Linked DNA regions of Homo sapiens: region 1 is linked to region 2. The links come from fine-mapping of genetic effects on gene expression. Tissue or cell type: whole blood. Region 2 holds a variant in brackets; the other region holds the start of a gene. All regions are shown on one strand. Distances are between the middles of the regions.

Region 1 (2,500 bases), 49 kb before region 2:
TGATGGTCTCGAACTCCTGACTTCGTGATCCGCCCTCCTTGGCCTCCCAGAGGGCCTCCCAGAGTGTTGGGATTACAGGCATGAGCCACTGCAGCCTGTTTTGTTTTTTTTTTTTTGTTCGTTTGTTTGTTTGTTTTTGTTCTGTTTTTTTTGAGACGGAGTTTCGCTCTTGTTGCCCAGGCTGGAGTGCAATGGCGCCATCTCAACTCACCGCAACCTCCACCTCCCGGGTTCCAGCGATTTTCCTGTCTCAGCCTCCCGAGTAGCTGGGACCACAGGCACCCACCACTACGCCTGGCTAATTTTGTATTTTTAGTAGAGACGAGGTTTCTCCACGTTGGTAAGACTGGTCTCGAACCCCCGACCTCAGGTGATCCGCCCGCCTCGGCCTCCCAAAGTGCTGGGATTACAGGCGTGAACCACCGCGCCCGACCTAATTTTTGTATTTTTAGTAGAGATGGGTTTTCGCCATGTTGGACAGGTTGGTCTCAAACTCCTGACCTCAGATGATCCTCCCGCTGTGGCCCCCCAAAGTGTTAGGATTACAGGCGTGAGCCACCGCGCCCGGCCTCTGTTAATGTTTCTTAAGAAAACAAAAAAATTAGGGGTATTGATTTTGTAGCTGCGCTAAGTAACCTTTGCTTTTTGCGTCCCTTGGTCTCAGTCCTAGCCATTTCCTATCCACCCTGTGGCTAATTTGTCCTTTCTGTAACAGACACCCTAGACTGTGTCTATGCGGTTGGGCAGAGGCGTGATGGGTAAACACTCCTGGCGGGAGACTACAGGCGCTGCAGCTACATCCTGTTTCGTACTGGGAGCAGGTGCCGCCCCGCGGAACACTTACTTGCCCCGCCCTGCGGTGGAGCAGGGCGGTCTCAGCCGCCGGAACCGCCCTGGAAGCCCGCCCCAATCCTGGGCGTCGCTTCGCTGTGAGTGCCGCTGCCACGGATTGGCTTCCAGGGTCCGGCCCGTCGGCCAATCAGGCGCGGGGGCGTTGTCTGGGGGCGGGGCTCCGGCCGCCTCTGACGAGTCCCGGATTTACCAGGGCCGGTGGGATCCCCTCGGGCTCCCGCCTTAGCATGCTGGCCGGGACATCTGGTGAACATGGCCTCTGCTACTGCGGCAGCAGCACGACGGGGCCTCGGCCGGGCTCTCCCTCTCTTCTGGCGTGGCTACCAGACCGAGCGGGGCGTTTACGGCTACCGGCCGAGGAAGCCCGAGAGCCGCGAGCCCCAGGGCGCCCTGGAGCGCCCCCCAGGTCGGGGATGGGGCCCGGGCGGTGGGAGCGGGGGCTGGGACGCAGAAGCCTCCCCTGGCCGATTTGCGGTGGGGTGTCGGGGTCGGGGAACCGGCTGCCGGCCTGAACGCGCGGCCGGTGGGGAGGAGGGGGAGGTGAGGGGAGCAGAGGGTAGGTGTGGGTGCTCAGTGTTGGGGTCATCCCCCGTCCATCCTCTGTAACTGAGGATCTTTGAGGTCCACGCTTGGGTGGTCTTCCCATCTTGCTGGTCCGGACCTGGTTTCGGAAGGGCTTTTCTTTCCTTTGTTGGAAACGTGTGAGAAACTCTTTTTTTCTTTCTCTTTTTGTTTCCTTTTTTTTTTTTTTTTTTTTTTGAGACGGAGTCTCGCTCTGTGGCCCAGGCTGGAGTGCAGTGCTGCGACCACAGCTCCCTGCAGCCTCGAACTCCTGGGCTCAGGCTATCCTTCCACCTCAGCGTCCCGAGTAGCTGGGGACACAGAGGGATGACCACGCCCAGCTTTTTTTTTTTTTTTTTTTTTTTTTTCATTTTTAGTAGAGATGGGGTCCCACCATGTTGCCCAGGCTGGTCTTGAACTCTTGAGCTCAAGCTGATCCTGCAGCCTCGGCCTCCCAATGTGTTGGGATTACAGGCTGAGCCACTGCACCCAGCCTAGAAAACCAGCTCTTTAATGAGGCGGAGCTGTGGGAGAAGTAAAGTTTTAAGGTCTCCCAAGGATACATTTCCAGGACCATCTCTGAGGCTTCTTTTATGTGAGCAGGTGGGGGGGTCCAAGACTGCATTGCTTGGGAGAAGTGGGCAGTTAGTTCCAGTCTTGGAAGACAGCATGATATTTATTATGTATTTGTCTCCTTGTAGCTAGTCTGTTACTTTAATTTCAGAGTTTAACTCTTAACTCTGCTGAATTTGGAACTATGTGCTGGTGGGGTTTCTTTCTTTTCCTTTTAGCCACTCTATTGACACCTTGATATGTGCTGGTGGTTTTAATGAATTAACAGTCATGAATATCAGCTTTTGGAACTTCTGTTGCATGCTCATTTGCGAGACTAATTTTGAGTATTTGGTTTACGCTCCAAAATTATTGTATCATTATTTATCCTCACGGAGTAGAAGATAAGTACAGATTGCTTATTAGAGGAAAATCATTTGGCATCTTTGATCTGATCATTAGATTAATGTTGAAGATCCCCTTCGGCATCTGGGCACCTGACCTTGGAATGTTCCATCAATCACACACTAGAACT
Region 2 (2,844 bases):
CAGCTAATTTTTGTATTTTTATATTTTTGTAGAGATGGGATTTCACCATGTTGGCCAGGCTGGTCTCAAACTCCTGACCTCAGGTGATCCGCCCACCTTGGCCTCCCAAAGTGCTGGGATTACAGGCATGAGCCACGGCACCTTTTTTTTTTTTTTTTTTTTTTTTAATAGAGGCAAGGCACCAGTGGGGATGGTGGAGTAGGGGGTGCAAAGGGAGTCTCGCTATGTTGCCCAGGCGGGTCTTGAACTGGCCTCCAGCGATCCTCCTGCCTTGGCCTCCCAAAGTGTTAAGATTCCAAAAGGCTATCTTATGTAACCTCAGAAACATAGTTTTACCCTGAAGTATACAGAACTGATATTTTTTGGCAAGGCATTGCGTCTATTAGGACATGGGTCTCCTTGCAGTGCTAGGCTAGAACTTTGGTACTCGTGTTTGATAGCGGCCCTTGTAAGTGACAGCATCACCTCTTTCTGTTGCTTGCTGGATGTGTGGCCTCTTCTCCCTCGTAGGCAGCCGTGTCAACTCTTCAAGAAATGGCACCAGGAACAACATTTAACCCGGTCATTGGTGATTCATCTGTGGATCCAAAAAAGTAAGATATGTATCTCTGTTTTCATATTCTGTGGCAGAATTTTAATTAATGGGAAAAGTAGTTCACATTAAGAGATCACAGGTGATGCAGATCTCCCCTCTCCTATTTTTATTTATTTATTTATTTATTTATTTATTTATTTATTTATTTTTGAGACTGAGTCTGGCTCTATTGCCCAGGCTGGAGGGCAGTGGTGCAATCTCAGCTCTATGCAACCTCCGCCTCCCGGATTCAAGTGATTCTTGTGCTTCAGCCTCCCAAGTAGCTGGGATTACAGGTGCCCGCCACCACACCCTGCTAATTTTTTTATTTTTAGTAGAGATGGGGTTTCACCATGTTGGCCAGGCTGGTCTCGAACTCCTGACCTCAGGTTATCCACCCACCTCAGCCTCTGAAAGTGCTGGGATTGCAGGCGTGAGCCACCATGCCTGGCCTCCTCTATCCTAAGTCCTTTAAGTCAGTGGAGTATGAGTTAAGTGTGGGTGGGAAAGTGGACTTTGTAGGCGCATGTTGCTGAAGAAGGGTCCCCAGGAATAGCCTGTGACTGAACTCGGCTGCAGAGACCCCCACCACCTTGTTCATGAGGACTTTAAATCTGCACTGTCTCCCGTTTCTTCTGACATAATTCTCTTTTTTTTTTTTTTTGAGGTTGAGTCTTGCTCTGTCGCCCAGGCTGGAGTGCAGTGGCACGATCTTGGCTCACTGCAAGCTCCGCCTCCCGGGTTCACGCCATTCTCCTGCCTTAGCCTCCCGAGTAGCTGGGACTACAGGTGCCCGCCAGTACGCCCGGCTAATTTTTTGTATTTTTAGTAGAGACAGGGTTTCACCGTGTTAGCCAGGATGGTCT[T/C]GATTTCCTGACCTCGTGATCCGCCCGCCTTGGCCTCCCAAAGTGCTGAGATTACAGGCGTGAGCTACTGCACCTGGCCTCTTCTGACGTAATTCTTACTTTAAAAAATTTCTCCCCCACCCTATTGTTCCTTTTCTGTCCAACAGGGTTAAGACCCTCGTGTTCTGCTCCGGCAAACATTTCTACTCCCTGGTGAAACAAAGAGAATCTCTGGGGGCCAAGAAGCATGACTTTGCCATCATCCGAGTAGAGGAACTCTGCCCCTTCCCGTTGGATTCTTTACAGCAAGAGATGAGCAAATACAAACATGTTAAAGGTAAGAGGTTGTTCTCATTTGGGTTTTGATGTTCAGATACCCAAAACCCATTTCAGCTCTTTTAAATGAAAAGATGTGGTGGGGGTTATTAGAAAATTGAATCTTGGGCCGGGCGCGGTGGCTCACACCTGTAATCCTGGCACTTTGGGAAGCTGAGGTGGGTGGATCACAAGGTCAGGAGATTGAGACCATCCTGGCTAACACGGTGAACCCCCGTCTCTACTAAAAGTACAAAAAATTAGCCGGGCGTGGTGGCGGGCGCCTGTAGTCCCAGCTCCTTGGGAGCCTGAGGCAGAAGAATTGCTTGAACCTGGGAGACGGAGGTTGCAGTGAGCCGAGATTGTGCCACTGCACTCCAGCCTGGGCACAAGACTCTGTGTCAAAAAAAGACACAAAAACATGAAAATTTGGTACAGGCGGGGCGCGGTGCCTCACGCCTGTAGTCCCAGCACTTTGGGAGGCCGAGGTGGGCGGATCACGAGGTCAGGAGATCAAGACCATCCTGGCTAACACAGTGAAACCCCGTCTCTACTGAAAATACAAAAAAATTAGCCGGGCGTGGTGGCGGGCGCCTGTAGTCCCAGCTACTTGGGAGGCTGACGCAGGAGAATGGCGTGAACCCGGGAGGCGGAGCTTGCAGTGAGCCGAGATTGCGCTACTGCACTCCAGCCTGGGCGACAGAGCGAGACTCCGTCTCAAAAAAAAAAAAAAAAAAAAGAAAGAAAATTTGGTACATATATGGGGCCTGTCCGAGGGTCATGGGGGAGGAGGGAGAGCATCAGGCAGAACAGCTAATGGATGCTGGGTTAATACCTAGGTGATGGATGATCTGAGGAGCAAACCTCCGTGGCACACATTTACCTGCATAACAAACCTGCACATCCTGCATGTGTACCCCAGAACTTAAAAAAGAAAAAAGAAAATGCATTGAATACACCTAAACTACAAAACACAGCTTAGCCTAGCCTGCCTTAAACATGCTCAGAACACTCACATTAGCTTATCGTTGGGCACAATCATTTAACACAAAATCTATTACATTTCATAATGAAGTGTTGAATATCTCAGATAATTTATCGAATACTGTA

Evidence for each region. PIP is the estimated chance that this variant, and not a neighbour inherited with it, causes the effect.
Region 1: DHTKD1 starts here. The variant in region 2 is fine-mapped to the expression of DHTKD1 in whole blood (INTERVAL, PIP above 0.99).

What each region holds. Positions count from the first base shown.
Region 1 is chr10:12,067,930-12,070,429 of GRCh38, forward strand. DHTKD1 (dehydrogenase E1 and transketolase domain containing 1) reads left to right here and starts at 1,025. Exons shown (of 17, transcript NM_018706.7): 1 at 1,025-1,258. The coding sequence starts at 1,105. RefSeq lists silencers at 1,051-1,100, 1,201-1,360.
Region 2 is chr10:12,117,163-12,120,006 of GRCh38, forward strand. It overlaps DHTKD1 (dehydrogenase E1 and transketolase domain containing 1), which reads left to right. Exons shown (of 17, transcript NM_018706.7): 14 at 511-593; 15 at 1,587-1,756. Among named protein-coding and RNA genes, the nearest start is that of SEC61A2, 11 kb to the right of the region's middle. The variant T/C (reference allele first, on the strand shown) is at 1,441.